2 separate regions of the Homo sapiens genome follow, and region 2 is linked to region 1. A link means that fine-mapping ties the variant in region 1 to the expression of a gene that starts in the linked region. Tissue or cell type: whole blood. Region 1 holds a variant in brackets; the other region holds the start of a gene. All regions are shown on one strand. Distances are between the middles of the regions.

Region 1 (8,100 bases):
CTCTGTCACCAGGCTGGAGTGCAGTGGTGTGATCTCGGCTCACTGCAACCTCTGCCTCCCGGGTTCAAGCAATTCTCCTGCCTCAGCCTCCCGAGTAGCTGGGACTACAGGTGAGCGCCACCATGCCCAGCTACGTTTTGTACTTTTAGTAGAGACGGGGTTTCACCATGTTGGCCAGAATGGTCTCGATCTCTTGACCTCATGATCCACCCGCCTTGGCCTCCCAAAGTGCTGGGATTACAGGCGTGCGCCACCACGCCCAGCCTCTACAAAAAATTTAAAAATTGAGCTAGGCGTAGTGGTACATGCTTGTAGTCCCAGCTACTCAGGAGGCTGAGGCAAGAGGATGGATTGAATGCAGGAACTTGAGGCTGCAGTAAGACGTGAATCATGCCACTGCACACCAGCGTGGGTGACAGAGCAAGACCCCGTCGCAAATAAAATAAAATAAAATAAAAATATAGGCCAGGCGCGGTGGTTCACACCTGTAATTCCAGCACTTGGGAAGGCCGAGGTGGGAGGATAACTTGAGGTCAGGAGTTCGAGACCAGCCTGGCCAACACAGTGAAATCCCGTCTCTACTAAAAACACAAAAAGTAGCCGGGTGTGGTGGCACACGCCTATAATCCCAGCTACTCAGGAGGCTGAAGCAGGAGAACTGCATGAACCCAGGAGGTGGAGGCTACAGTGAGCTGAGATCACACCACTGTACTCCAGCCTGGGCGACAGAGCAAGACTCCGTCTCAAAAAATATATACATACATATATTTATATATTATGTGCTTTATATTTTATATTTATTATATATAATACATTGTATTATATAATATGTATAAAAATATATCAAAGTAATGCATGTTGCTTGGTTTAAAAAGCCAATGGGAGGCCGGGTGTGGTGGCTCACACCTGTAATCCCAGCACTTTGGGAGGCCAAGGCGGGTGGATCATGAGGTCAAGAGATCGAGACCATTCTGGCCAACATGGTGAAACCCCATCTCTGCCAAAAAATACGAATATTAGCTGGGCATGGTGACGCGTGCCTGTAGTCCCAGCTACCTGGGAGGTTGAGGTGGGAGAATCTGAACCCGGGCGACGGAAGTTTGCAGTGAGCTGAGATCGAGTCACTTCACTCCAGTCTGGGCGACAGTGAGACTCTGTCTCAAAAACAAAACAAAACAACGACACAAAAAAGCCACTGGGAAGACTTATTTTTATTTATTTATTTATTTATTTATTTATTTATATTTTTGAGACGGAGTCTCGCTCTGTCTCCCAGGCTGGAGTGCAGTGGCACAATCTCGGCTCACTGCAAGCTCCACCTCCCGGGTTCACTCCATTCTTCTACCTCAGCCTCCCGAGTACCTGGGACTACAGGTGCACGCTGCCACGCCCGTAAGTTTTTGTATTTTTAGTAGAGATGGGGTTTCACCATGGTAGCCAGGATGGTCTCGATCTCCTGACCTCGTGATCCGCCCGCCTCGGCCTCCCAAAGTGCTGGGATTACAGGCGTGAGCCACCGCGCCCGGCCACCACTGGGAAGACTTATAATAAAAGGTTACAGTTCCTTGCCACATCCTCCCCACCCCAGCCCCACCTCCAGTCTATCTTCCCAGGGACAATCTATTTATTTGCTTTTTTTTTTTTTTTTTTTAAAGTTGTGTGTGTGTCTGTATTTTAATATTGATCCGGGGTCTCACTATGTTGCCCAGGCTCGTCTTGAGCTCCTGAGCTCAAGCAATCTGCTGCCTCAGCCTCCCAAAGTGCTGGGATTTACAGGCATGAGCCACTGAGCCCGGCCTTATTTGCATTATTTTTAGGCATGGAAAAGACGTAAACGGTTTGGGGAAAGCATATTTTAAATAGCTAAGATTCTGCACTTAGATCACTTTGGAAGTGTCCTTATGTGCCTGCTTTGCTTTTAGAGTTAACTAATGCACCAGCTTAATAGTCGCCTGGTTGAAAATTCTAAAAGTACAAAAAATTTACAGTAAAAAGTCTTCCCCTAACTCCTGTCCCCAGTGACACAGTTCCTCTCCCTGGGGACCTTCCTTGTTACCAGTTCTTGTTATCATTCTACAGGTGTCCTGTTTTACTGTTTCATTTTTAATTATTGTCATGGTTTCCTCCATGTCTCTCTATAAATTGTGCTTATGATGTTGTTATCGCTTCATATATCAACTCTAGCCTATCTATCTTCCTGCTGTGACCTTGATATGGCGACTTACTCCTTAAGTCCTTCTGAACTGCATCAATTTTTTTCAACCACTGATCAGTATTATTTTTTGAAAAATTAAAAATGGTTAAACTCGTTAAAGGGAGTTTATGTAACATCAAACAAACCAATAAACAAAACTTACTCTACGAGAATGGAGTACTAATATTTGGATTAAACCAGAGTTTTCATGTTAATTTAGAGAAATTCACAGCCTGATGCCCAGACACTACACTCCGGGCGTGGGCATACACGCCTTGCCTGTCCGGGAACGGCCGTCAACGCCCTTTTAAAAAAGACAGCGCCCACCCAGGACCCCGCCCCCTGGTGGTTAAAGATGTAAACTAAGCCTCGTACTGCAACCTCCCCTTAAAGGGGAAACCCATTTCTGTCGTCTAAAAAGGGAGCAGTGGCTGCACCGCCTTTCCTTAAGGTAAAACTCGGCGCCCCTCTAGTTAAAAGGGTAAAGTACGCGCTGGGCCCCACCTCACCTGCGCGGTTACTTTGTACTCGGTGTAGCCCTTGGGGTGAGTCCTGGGGTCCGACACTGTGTAGTGCCGCAGGAAGTCATCCTTCGCCTGGCGGGACATGAAACCGAGCTGGAGCGGAGCGGAGCGCCGGCCTCCACCTCCTCGCCGTCCCCACCCCTCCGGCCCAGCCTCCGCCCGCCGCCGCCTCGCCAGGCCTGCGCTCTTCTTCCTCTGGCCTAGGGATTTTGTCGCAAGTGACAGCGCTGTTCCGATCCCGGGTGCGCGGCCAAGGGAGCGTCTGAAAAGTTCCTTCTCTGTGGTGAAGCGTAAACCCAGGTCACTGGAAAGATTGGTTGGGAAG[G/A]CTGGGATCACTCGTCTCATTTCTGCCGGGTGATCAAGCCCACCCTATCCAAGCGTAAACCCTTGTCACAGACTTCCAAACGACTTCTCCCCGCTTCCTAAATCCCTGCTTTCGTTCATCCACCCAACTCTTATTGTGTCCAGTATGTACAGGACAACGTCAAATTATTTCCCTGTCTCCCTCCACAGGATTCCCTAATTCATGTTTTCTGGAAAGTAGAGGAAGCAAAGAAGGTTGGAGAAGCAGGATGGTGTCATGGGCTCTGAGTCACGACTCTTACTAGCTGTAGGAGTTTCCCTTAACTACTCAGCCTCAGTTTCTCATCTGTAGAATGGAGATGTTTATAATAGAATCTGTGTAGGGCAGTGGAGCTTTTTTGCGATGGGTTTGCTGCCAGAACACAGGTGTCGTGAAAACCACCGTTAAATCAAAGCCAAAATGGGGGTTTGGCGCGGTGGTTCACGCCTGTAATCCCAGCATTTTGGGCAGTGGAGGCAGGTGGATCACTTGAGGTCAGGAGTTCAAGACCAGCCTGGCCAACATGGTGAAACCCCGTTTCTACTAAAAATACAAAAATTAGCTGGGCGTGGTGGCGCACGCCTGTAATTCCAGCTACTCCAGGGGCTGAGCTGGCTGATGGCTTCAGCCCAGGAGGTTGAGGCTGCAGTGAGCTGCAATCACACCACTGCACTCCAGCCTGGGCAACAGAGTGAGACTCCATCTCAAAAGAAAGGGAGCAGGGGAGGGAAAAGACTCAGCTCAACATCATCATCTGATTTGGGCAAGTCCAGCACTACTGGCCATCTGATCTACAAGTGTGGTGGGATCCACAAAAGAACCATCGACAATTTTGAGGAAGCTGCTGAGATGGGAAAGGGCTCCTTCAAGCATACCTGGGTCTTGGGTAAGCTGAAAGTTGAACGTGAGAGTGGTATCACCACTGATACCTCCCTGCTGGCAATTGAGACCAGCAAGTACTATGTGACCATCCTCAATGGCCCAGGATGCAGAGACTTTATCAAAAACCTGACCTCAGGCTAATTGTGCTGTCCTGATTGTTGCTGCTGGTGTTGATGAATTTGAAGCTGGTAATTCCAAGAATGGGCAGACGCGTGAGCACACCCTTCTGTCTTACACGCTGGGTGTGAAACTAATTGTTGGTGTTAACAAAATGGATCCCAATGAGCCACCCTAAAGAGGAGAGATGGGGGCCGGGCGTGGTGGCTCACGCCTGTAATCCCAGCAGTTTGGGAGGCAGAGGTGGGTGGATTAGGAAGTCAGGAGTTCAAGACCAGCCTGACCAAGATGGTGAAACCCCGTCTCTACTAAAAATACAAAAATTAGCTGGGCATGGTGGCGGGTGCCTGTAATCCCAGCTACTTGGGAGGCTGAGGCAGAGAATTGCCTGAAACCAGGAGGCAGAGGTTGCAGTGAGCTGAGATCGTGCCACTGCACTCCAGCCTGGGAGACAGAGGACAGAGTGAGACTCCGTCTCAAAAAAAAAAAAAAAAAAAAAAGGAGAGATGGGAGAAATCATTAAGGAAATCAGCACCTACATTAAGAAATTGGCTACAACTCTGACATAGTAGTATTTGTGCCAATATCTGGTTGGAGTGGTCACAACAGGCGGGAGCCAAGAGCTCACATGCCTTGGCTCAAGGGATGGAAAGTCACCTGTAAAGATGGCGATGCTGTGGAACCACGCTGCTCGGAAGCTCTAGATCACATCCTACCACCAACTCACAAGCTCTTGGTTCTGCCCCTCCAGACGTCCACAAAATTGGTGGTATTGGTACTGTCAGTGTGGGCCACGTGGAGACTGGTGTTCCCAAACCTGGCATGGGTTTTGAGACCTTTGCTCCAGTCAGTGTTAGAATTGAAGCAAAAATCTGTTGAAATGCAGCATGAAGTTGGTAGGCTTACATACAACACATAGTATTTACTGCAGAGGAAGCATTGTGAATAGCCACTCTTGTTCCTGGAATTCAGGTGTACAGGTGCGGTGCCTTGGTCTTCAGAAAGAAGCAAAGCCTGGCATGGGGCTCATGCCTGTAATCCCAGCACTTTGGGAAGCCAAGGCGGGAGGATCACTTGAGGCCAGGAGTTCAAGACCAGCCTGGGCAACAGGCTGCCTCTGATTTCATGAGAAATTTAAAAATTAGCTGGGGGCCAGGTGCAGTGGCTCATGCCTGTAATCCCAGCACTTTGGGAGGCCAAGTCGGGCGGATTACTTGATATCAGGAGTTCAAGACCAGCCTGGCCAACATGATGAAACCCCATCTCTACTAAAAATACAAAAATTAGCCAGGTGTGGTGTCGGGTGCCTATAATCCCAGCTACTCGGGAGAATGGGGCAGGAGAGTTGCTTGAACCCGGCAGGCAGAGATTGCACTTAACCTTCTGGAGGAAATGTCATCCAGGAGCCAGTCAATGCCAGGCAGTGGGTTCTCCCCAGCAGTGGGGCTGCAGCCCTTGACGTACCAGTGGTGGCTGCAGAGAGTCCAGATGCAGGGCTTGGGAGAACAAAGGTGCTGGTGGTGGCCAGTGACCGCAGACCCTTCCCTCCCTGCTCAAGGGTCAGCCCATCCAGGAAGCCTCCCCGGCCCCTGGGAGAGCTTATCTGTTCCCCGGGGCACCTGAGCTCTCTGTACAGTGCCACGCCAGTGCCACCCCTTAGTGTCCCATATAAGAGAGGATCCTGATAGGCGGCACTGCATAGGGCTGTCCCTAACTGTATTGCTGAATGGAATGGGTAGTACTTAGAACAGTGTAGGGAAAAGAGAGATCAGACTGTTACTGTATCTATGTAGAAAGGGAAGATAGAAGAAATTTCATCTTGACCTGTACCCTGAACAATTGCTTTGCCCTGAGATGCTGTTAATCTGTAACTTTGCCCCAGCCACTTTGCCCCAACCCCTTTGCCCCAACCTTGAGCTCACAAAAACATGTGTTGTATGGAATGAAGGTGTTTTTTTTTTTTTTTTTTGAGATGGAGTCTCGCTCTGTCGCCCAGGCTGGAGTGCAGTGGCGCCATCTCGGCTCACTGCAAGCTCCGCCTCCTGGGTTCATGCCATTCTCCTGCCTCAGCCTCCCGAGTAGCTGGGACTATAGGCGCCCACCACCACACCTGGCTAATTTTTTGTATTTTTAGTAGAGACGGGGTTTCACCGTGTTAGCCAGGATGGTCTCAATCTCCTGACCTCATGATTCGCCTGCCTCGGCCTCCCAAAGTGCTGAGATTACAGGCGTGAGCCACCACGCCCGGCCTTGGAATCAAGGTTTAAGGTCTAGGGCTGTGCAGGACGTGCCTTGTTAACAAAATGTTTACAGGCAGTATGCTTGGTAAAAGTCATCGCCATTCTCTAGTCTCAATAAACCAGGGGCACAATGCACTGTGGAAAGCTGCAGGGACCTCTGTCCTGGAAAGCCGGATATTGTCCAAGGTTTCTCCCCATGTGAGAGTCTGAAATATGGCCTCGTGGGATGAGAAAGACCTGACCGTCCCCCAGCCCGATACCCATAAAGGGTCTGTGCTGACGTGGGTTAGTAAAAGAGGAAAGCCTCTTGCACTTGAGATAGAGGAAGGCCACTATCTCCTGCCTGCACCTGGGAACTGAATGTCTCGGTATAAAACCAGATTGTACATTTGTTCAATTCTGAGATAGGAGAAAAACCGCCCTATGGTGGGAGGCAAGACATGTTGGCAGCAATGCTGCCTTGTTATTCTTTATTCCACTGAGATGTTTGGGCAGAGAGAAACATAAATCTGGCCTACGTGCACATCCAGGCATAGTACCTCCCCTTGAACTTAATTATGACACAGATTCTTTTGCTCACGTTTTTTTGCTGACCTTCTCCCTATTATCACCCTGCTCTCCTACCACATTCTTCTTGCTGAGATAGTGAAAGTAATAATCAATAAAAACTGAAGAAACTAAGAGACCGGTCCCAGTGTGGGTCCTTGGTATGCTGAGCGCCGGTCCCCTGGGCCCACTTTTCTTTCTCTATACTTTGTGTCCTATTTCTTTTCTCAGTCTCTCGTCCCACCTGACGAGATATACCCACAGGTGTGGAGGGACAGGCCACCCCTTCACACAGAACCCTGCAGAGTAAGCAGCTGCTAGGACCCTGTGCCATGAAAACATCTGCCAGTTTTGCCACTTGGATTGGACCCCTGGGGTGGCCTCATTTCCTATCCTTTCCCAACCTGGCACTGCTTCTGAGTTCCTGTAGCCTTCAGGGAAGGCCTCAGTTACCCCTGCCTGATGTGGCCCCCCTCCCACCCTCTGGCTGCACTCTCTCCTACACATGACTCTATGCACCTCCCCATTTCCCAAGAGCCATTGCTTTTTTTTTTTGAGACAGAGTCTCGCTCTGTCACCCAGGCTGGAGTGCAGTGGCGCAATCTCGGCTCACTGCCAGCTCCGTCTTCCCGGGTTCACGCCATTCTCCTGCCTCAGCCTCCCGAGTAGCTGGGACTACAGGCGCCCGCCACCACGCCCGGATAATTTTTTGTATTTTTAGTAGAGACGGGGTTTCACCGTGTTAGCCAGGATGGTCTTGATCTCCTGACTTCATGATCCGCCCATCTTGGCCTCCCAAAGTGCTGGGATTACAGGTGAGCCACCGCGCCCAGCCGGAGCCCTTGCTCATCATGCCTGTCCTGTGATCCCCTCTGCCTGAATCTGTGCTGGCCTTGTACAGCTGTTCAGGTTGTCCACTGCACATGGGTTCCTGGCTGCAACAGAGAATTGGGAGCTGAATTTCAGCCCATGTTCCATGCAAAAAGTTGGAGCCCTGGTCTGCAGCTGTGTCTGTTTTTCTAATTCATACCTATGAGAGTTGGATTTCCCCTGGTGAACTGTCTTCCCCTTCCTCTACCTAGAAAACTACTCGCGCTTTACTCCCAGCTTTAATGTGACCTCCTTTAGGAAGCCTGCAGATGGAATCAGTTGCACCGTGTCCCATGCTTCTATAACTTTTTCTGCATCCCTTTGACATAGCCACAGTTCACCATCGACTCCAATGATCCATTCCTTTCTGTCCCCTGCTAGATT
Region 2 (8,100 bases), 180 kb after region 1:
TGAGAGGCTGCGGGGGGTAGCTGAGCCCTCCTGCACCTGGGGAGTAGTCGACCATGGAGGAGGCATTTGAATGAAGGTACCCTGGTGAGAAGGAAAGGAAAGAGGGTGGCCTGACTGCCTGGACAGGGTGTGACTGAGGCTCTCGGGGGTGTCTCCTGTCAAGACTCACCCATCCCTGTGAGCTGGGCCTTGGGCTGTGCCATGCTCAGGGCTCTGTGGGGAGCGTGTCAAGGCTGCTGTGGCCCTAGTGGTCTGGCCCCACAGGATCAGAAAACAGATCTGCTGAGCCAACATGGTGCCATGCCCTGGAGCTGCTTCGGGCAGTCAGGGCTGGAGGCCTGGCTGCTTGCTAAGGCTGGAATAAGCTCAGAAAGAGACTGAGCCTTTACAGACTTCCTTCCATTGGAGCTGCAAAGGAATGAGCAGGGGGCCCAACCCTCCCCCTTTATTTTTATTTATTTATTTATTTTGGAGACATGGTCTCATTCTGTCACCTAGGCTGGAGTGCAGTGGCACAATCTCAGCTCACTGCAAGCTCTGCCTCCCAGGTTCAAGTGATTCTCCTTTCTCAGCCTCCCGAGTAGCTGGGACTGCAGGTGTGTGTCACCATTCCAGGCTAATTTTTGTATTTTTAGTAGAGACAGGGTTTTGCCATGTTGACCAGGCTGGTCTTGAATTCCTGGGCTCAAGTGATCCGCCCACCTTGGCCTCCCGAGTAGCTGGAACTACAGGCTCTCACCACCACACTCAGCTAATTTTTAAGTTCGTTTGTAGAGATGAGGTCTCACTATGTCACCCAGGCTGATCTTGAACTTCTGGGCTCAAGTGATCCTCCCACCTCGGCCTCCCAAAATGCTGGGCTTACAGGCATGAGCCACCATGCCCGGACCCAACCCCCTTTTACAGACAAGGAAATTGAGGCTTACAAGACAGATGTGACAAAAACTAATAAAGGACCAGAAAGAATCACGTGTGAGAGGCGGGAGGTGCCGAATGCCAGTCCCAGCCCTGCCCCGTGCAGCCCTGGCCTCAGCCCTGGGACTCAGTGTCCACTCAGCTATACTGTGTGGGGATGGACAGATGGCTGGGGATGAACCTTTCTGAGAACTTACCAGAGAGGTTAAGGGACTTGCCTGAGGTCACACAGGGAGTGAGGCAGGGCCCAGAGGCCTCACCAGGGGTGTCCACGAGGGGCAGCGGAGGAGAGGCCCATCTTCCCACCCAGGAGCCCTTCCCTATCTCCGGTTCCCTAATGCTGGCTGGAGCGCCTGTCCCTCCTCTGGTCTCTGGCGCCCCCGTGTGGCCTCAGTGAGCAAGCCCCTTCCTACCTCCTGTGGGCTCCACCCCTGCCCCGCCCCTATAAGGAGGGCTCAGAATCTCTCAGGTGAGAGGGATCTGAACTCCTGCCCCCTCCCCCTTCCAGGAGACCAGAGGCAATGAAGGGGATCCCCAGAGTTTGGTTTGAATCCTGGCTCCCCATCCCATTCTGGTTGATTTAGGTAATACACCCAGACTCTGTTTCCCCAAACATTTCTCAGCCCATGGGCCCTGCGTAGCTACAGGGCGGGCCTCTGGGGAGATCACATGGGAGGCAGGGCGAGTCTGAGACCAGCCCCGGGCAATGTAGAGAGACCCCAGCTCTAAAAAAAAAATTAAAAATTAACCAGGCGTGGTGGTGCAGGCTTGCGGTCCCAGCTACTCAGGAGGCTGAGGTGGGAGGATCACTTGAGCCCAGTATGTTGAGGCTGCAGTGAGCTGAGATTGCATCACTGCACTCCAGCCTGGGTGACAGAGCAAGACCCTGTCTCAAAAAAAGGCTGGGTATGGTGGCTCATGCCTGTAATCCCAGCACTTTGGGAGGCCGAGGTGGGCGGATCACCTGAGGTCAGACCAGCTTGGCCAACGTGGCAATATAGTGCAACCCTGTCTCTTTAAAATAAATAAATAAATAAACAAATAATCACATGAAAAACCCTTCGTGGGGAGAAACACCCTGTTTGCTTCAAACATTCATGGAACACCTCCTCCCTCAACCTGATCCTGCCCCCATCTCAGCGAGGTCCCAGTACGAGAGGAGAGGCAAACCCCTAAACAGGTCTTTTAATGAAATAATGTGTTGGCCAGTGGCTACAGCCTGTAATCCCAGCGCTTTGGGAGGCTGAGGCAGGCAGATCACTTGAGTCCAGGAGTTTGAGATCAGCCTAGGCAACATGGCGAAACCCCATCTCTATAAAAAATACAAACATGGCTGGGCCCAGTGACTCACGCATGTAATCCCAGCACTTTGGGAGGCCGAGGCAGAAGGATCACCTGAAGTCAGGAGTTTGAGATCAGCCTGGCCAACATGGCAAAACCCTATCTCTACTAAAAATACAAAAATTAGCTGGGTGTGGTGGCACATGCCTATAATCCCAGCTACTTGGGAGGCTGAGGCAGGAGACTCTCTTGAACCTGGGAGGCAGAGGTTGCAGTGAGCCGAGATCGTGCCACTGCACTCTGGCCTGGGTGACAGCGTGAGACACCATCTCAAAAAACAAAACATCAGCCTGGCCTAGTGGTGTGAGCCTGTAGTCTCAGCTATTCGGGAGGCTGAGGTGGGAGGATCACTTGAACCCAGGAGGTTGAGGCTGTGGTGAGCTACGATTGCACCACTGCACTCCAGCCTAGGGGACAGAGTGAGACCCTGTCTCAAAAAAGAGAAAGAAGTGTTGTCTAGGCCGGGTGTAGTTGCCCATGTCTGTAATCCCAGAACTCCGGGAGGCCAAGGTGGGAGGATTACCTGAGCCCAGGAGTTCGAGACCAGCCTGGTCAACATAACAATAACCCTTGACTCCAAAAAGTAAAATAAAAAATCAGCTGGGTGTGGTGGCATCTGCCTGTAATCCCAGCTACTCAAGAGGCTGAGGCAGGAGCCTAAGAGGTCAAGGCTGCAGTGAGTTATGATTGCATCACTGCACTCCAGCATGGGTGACAGAGAGACCCTGTCTCAAAAAAAAAAAAAAAAAAGTGTTGTCTGAAGCCACCAATATGTCCCACCCTTTGATCTCTCCTCATGGTGCCTGGTCCATCCCAGCTGGACAGAAATCAGAAATACCACTGGACAGAGCCAGCCCCTCCCCTCCCCAACCTCCTCCAGCCTATCTCAGACCTCTCCTTGCCCTTCACGTTCCAGGTCAGACCTCAGGCCCTGCTCCTACTGAAGCTTAAAACGCCTGTGGTGTTGGTACCAGCCCAGCTCCACCTCCACCCCAGGGTCTAACTTAAGAGCCACCTTGTCCTCAGCCCCTCAATTCGCCTTCCTCCTTCCCAAGCCTCAGTGTGTCCATCTGCCAAATGGGCGTGACCATCCCTACCCCAACTTCCTGTCTCCCACATCAACTCTAATGATACAATCAAAGTAAGATTCAGAAACTTTTTTTTGGGCGGGGGCGGGGGGGCGATGGGTGCCAAGCGCGGGCAAACCATGGAGAGAGCGAACTACAATTCCCATCCGGCTCCGGGGCCGCGGGCGTCCCTAGCCCCTCTCTCTTAGCCAAGGGCAAGGCGGCTGCGACCCAGGGGGCGAGAGAAGTTGCAGTGCTCCGCGCCTCCTGGGTCAGGGCCCAGGGAGGGCCCAGGTAAGTCTGGGTCTGGGGCCGCGCGGGGATCTGGGGAGTCTTTCCGACCCCGCAGAACCCCACCGCGCCCCGCGCAGAAGTCAGTTGTTCTCCCCGGCCCGCCCCCGCACTTCCTGGCCGGGAGTTGGGCCCGCCCCCGCGCGCCTCCGCCCCCACCTTCACCTCTAGCCGCGGCTCCCATTGGCCGGCGCGCACCTGCCCGTCCGTCGGGGGGCGGGGCGCGGCGCCCAGGTGAGGGCGCGCTGGCGGCGGCGGAGGAAGGTGACAGCGGGGAGGGCGGGAGAGGGGCGGGGGAGGACGCGCGGACAGAGCCTCAGACGGTTGGGCGGACGGACGGCCCGACAGGCGGGCATGCGGGCGGCCAGACTGTAGCCGAGCAGCGAGGCTCCGGCCGCAGCCATGGAGCGGCGGCTGCGCGCGCTGGAGCAGCTGGCGCGGGGCGAGGCCGGCGGCTGCCCGGGGCTCGACGGCCTCCTAGATCTGCTGCTGGCGCTGCACCACGAGCTCAGCAGCGGCCCCCTACGGCGGGAGCGCAGCGTGGCGCAGTTCCTGAGCTGGGGTGAGTGGCGGGGCGGCACGGAGCGGGGGCGGGCCTAGGGATATCGCGCCGAGACCCCCGCACCCGCAGACTTTCCCGCAGGGACCCGCACCCCCACGGGCTTCCCTCGCAGACTCCCTGCAGTGGCCCTGACGCGTACCACCGGACCCCCGCGGCCCGCACACTCGCCTGCACACCTCACCCTCACTCCAATTCTCACACACGCTCTCTCCCTCTCACAGACCCCGACACATGCACACACATACCAACTTGTGCTCAGGTATCGACCGCAGACGCATGTACCCAGTGCACCGCCTAGAGTCCCTTACAGATTTCCTTGCTTACAGGCCACACCTGACGCAGGACACACACAGACCCTCATGCATGTCACCCACTGATACACGGGCTCTGTTTCTCCTTCCTCTCGGATGCATTGAGACACACAACTCATGGAGAGACCCAGGGAGCGCTGCAGACCACCCCGACCGCATTGGCACTGCAAAACACACAGATCTGTAGGTATCGCACACTTGCAGACCTTCCCCCCACCAACACACACACCCCCAGCTCCCTGGGTACAAGACCACTGCAGCCTGGACTCAGGAACCGATCTCCAACCCTTGGCCTGTGCAGGCTGCTGGCCAAGCTCCTTGGGGGCTGTGGCGCCGGGGCCGGGGAGGGGGGCCTAGCTGGAGATGGGTCTGTACCTTTCCTGGTAGACTCATCTGAGTCATTGGGAGTGGCTGGCCCGGGGTGACCCTGAACCCACTGTGGGCACTGGCGCCAGCTGGAGGGTTCCCTGGTCACACCCTGCCGGGCCATGGGGAAAAGGCACGGGGGCCTGGCCAGGGCGGGGTGAGGCAGGTGTTTGCCCAGTGGGCAACTAGCGTTCCTGGCACTCCTGAGCTCTGGGAAGGCACAAGGCCTGGGGTAGAGGGGGAGGCTGCCACCTAGATGTGCCAGGGAGTTGTCCCCTAGCCCCAACCCTTCCATCCAGGGCGAGGCAGTCAGAGGCCCCTGCCTCTGTGCCTGTCTCCCTGGTATGCCTCCGTGCTATGCCTGTCTGCCTGTGTTGTTGTCACCCCCCCCATGACACCCACACACGTGTGTGTGTTTGCACACACATGTGTGCTCCTCCCTGACTGCCTCCAGCACCTCTGCCTGGGACCCCGGCATGGGGGCCCTCTGTTGACAATCTCCCAAGGTAACTCAAAGGGCTGTGACTCATTCCTCTCCTGCTTGTCTCTACTTGTCCCTGCTCCTGCCCGGAGCCCCCATGCCCTGTGGGAGGCCAGAGGATTAGGCAGCCTGTCCAGGGGCCTGGATCCTCCTGCCTGTGGGCCTGGGCTTCGGCCCTCTTCTGGCGGGTGGGTCCCTATGGTGCTGGCTTCAACTCCCACGGGGAGGCCCGGGGCTGCTCCTCCCCAGCTCCACACACAGACCTGGGAAAGAGACAATGAATTTCTGTAATGAGGTTTCCACCCCGCCCCCGCTGCGGGCTTCTGCCTGATAAACCTGTGGAACAGCTCTCTGTCCCACCCACAGACCCGCCCAGCTGGCAGGGAGTTTACCTCCTGGCAGGGGGAAACTGAGGCAGGGCGCCAGACCACAGCTGCCCCCCATCCTGACTGATCACTCCTGCCTCCCTAAGACCCAATTCCTTCCCAAAACCTGGGGCTAATCCAGGCCTGGAAAGTGCCTGGGAGTGGCTGGAGTTGCCCTTCCTGGAGGTATCTGGGATGTGAGGAAAGAGGACGTTCTTGACCAGACAAAAGCTTCGTCCAGACAGGGAGGCAGGGCTGGGAGTGAGAGAGCCGGTCAGGCCTGGAGGCATCCTGAGCACTCACGCCTTCAGGGGCTAGTGCTAGCACCAGGGAAAGGCATCTTTGTCCTGTTTGTGAGTCTCAGCACCTTGGCAGACTGGCATCCATGCCTCCAGCCTGAGGGGCCCCACGTGGGAAGCATAGAGCCTGTCCTCCCTGCCCTAGGGGCTGCAGGCCTCACCCCCAACCAGGCACCTCTATGCCTACAGGGTCCCGGGACCCAGGCCCACAGCTCCTGAATGGGAGAGAAGCCTCTCTGGGGATAAGGAATGTCACCCGTCCAGTTTCCTAAGACAGGCCCTGGCCTGAACCTGTGAGGGGGCCAAGAACTGTGAGGTGGGGGTAGGAATGGTGTCCCCATGGTCCCCAGGGTGACCTGGCCAAGCAGAGTCAGGCCGCAGACTGGGCAGGACTACAAGTCCCATCAGCCCCTGGGATGGAGGCTGCCTAGAGTCTGGGGCCAGGGGTCCAGGGAGGTCCAGGGACCAGGCGGTCAGCTGAGCCCGGCCTCTGACCTTCCGCACTTCCTGATCATGGCCAAAGGAGCACCAGTTCCTGCCACAACCCCTTGGCCCGAGGCTGTCCCTGGGGAGGTCATCCCTGCCTGGGCTCACAGGAGCGGCAGCTCCTGGCTTGCCCAAGGTGAGAGGGGGAATGGAGCCCTCCCTCCCTGCACTCTGAGTCCCGCCCTGTGTCCCCTCAGCCAGCCCCTTCGTATCAAAGGTGAAAGAACTGCGTCTGCAGAGAGATGACTTTGAGATCTTGAAGGTGATCGGCCGAGGAGCCTTTGGGGAGGTGAGCAAAGGGCCTGGGGTAGGTGGGGGGAGGTGTTCACACCGGGCTGGGCTCACCCCGGTCCTCCCTGTGGCCTTAGGTCACCGTGGTGAGGCAGAGGGACACTGGGCAGATTTTTGCCATGAAAATGCTGCACAAGTGGGAGATGCTGAAGAGGGCTGAGGTCAGTGTGGAGTCTGGGGGGCCCTTGGGCACCCTACAAATGGGTGTGGGGGAGGTGTATGCTGCCAGGGCCTATGGCGCGGGGGGGGCGGGCAAGGCTGCAGACCAGGCAAAGGGTGCCACCCTCAGCAGCCACTGATTTGTTATCTTTCTCACAATAAACCCTTTATTTAATTTTTTAAATTTTTTTTTTTTTTTTGAGACGGAATCTTGCTCTGTCAACTAGGCTGGAGTTCAACGGTGCTATCTTGGCTCACTGCAACCTCCGCCTCCCAGTTCAAGTAATTCTCCTGCCTCAGCCTCCCGAGTAGCTGGGATTACAGGCACCTGCCACCACACCCAGCTAATTTTTGTATTTTTAGTAGAGATGAGGTTTTGCTATGTTGGACAGGCTGGTCTCGAACTCCTGACCTCAGATGATCCTTCTGCCTTGGCCTCCCGAAGTGCTGGGATTACAGGCGTGAACCACCGTGCCCAGCCTACAATAAACTTTTTTTTTTAAGATAGAGTCTCACTCTGTCACCCAGGCTGGAGTGCGGTGGCGTGATCTCGGCTCACTGCAACCTCCACCTCCTGGGTGCAAGGGATTCTCATGCCTCAGCCTCCCAAGTAGCTGGGATTACAGGCGTGTGCCACGACACCCAGCTAAGTTTCTTGTATTTTTAGTAGAGATGGAGTTTCACCACATTGGCCAGGCTGGTCTCCAACTCTTGATCTCAAGTGATCTGCCTGCCTTGGCCTCCCAAAGTGCTGGGATTACAGGCCTAATAAACCCTTTTGAAAGCAAGCAGAGTCGTTCCCATTTTCCATATGGTCACACTGAGGCCCAGAGCTGTAGAGCGTGGGCTTGGGCTCAGTCGCAGCCAGACAGGGGACAGTAGAGCTATGACCTCCATCTGAGCTCCCAGACTCACAGAATCTTTCTCCATCCCCTGAGCTGGCAAGGGGGGCATCCTGGGCTCTGATCCCACCCCACCCCTTACTTCCCCAAACCTGCTGCAGACAGCCTGTTTCCGGGAGGAGCGGGATGTGCTCGTGAAAGGGGACAGCCGTTGGGTGACCACTCTGCACTATGCCTTCCAAGACGAGGAGTACCTGGTGAGGATACGTGGCGGGGCTGGAGGGGAACATCCTAGGGACACAGGAGAGGGCCCTTGGGGCCAGG

What was found. PIP is the estimated chance that this variant, and not a neighbour inherited with it, causes the effect.
Region 2: CDC42BPG starts here. The variant in region 1 is fine-mapped to the expression of CDC42BPG in whole blood (TOPMed, PIP above 0.99). The same link has a PIP of 0.9 or more in cerebellar hemisphere, sun-exposed skin, thyroid and unexposed skin.

Annotation. Positions count from the first base shown.
Region 1 is chr11:65,022,240-65,030,339 of GRCh38, reverse strand. It overlaps SNX15 (sorting nexin 15), which reads right to left and starts at 2,901. Exons shown (of 8, transcript NM_013306.5): 1 at 2,704-2,901. The coding sequence starts at 2,802. It overlaps ARL2-SNX15 (ARL2-SNX15 readthrough (NMD candidate)), which reads right to left. Exons shown (of 11, transcript NR_037650.2): 4 at 2,704-3,022. It also overlaps the pseudogene EEF1A1P18. RefSeq lists a silencer at 2,770-2,939 and an enhancer at 2,789-3,083. The variant G/A (reference allele first, on the strand shown) is at 3,044.
Region 2 is chr11:64,840,486-64,848,585 of GRCh38, reverse strand. It overlaps CDC42BPG (CDC42 binding protein kinase gamma), which reads left to right and starts at 3,933. Exons shown (of 37, transcript NM_017525.3): 1 at 3,933-4,176; 2 at 6,682-6,773; 3 at 6,853-6,936; 4 at 7,938-8,033. The coding sequence starts at 4,017. RefSeq lists enhancers at 978-1,047, 4,458-5,270, 5,295-5,589, 6,083-6,895 and silencers at 1,348-1,437, 3,754-4,103, 4,114-4,163, 4,194-4,243.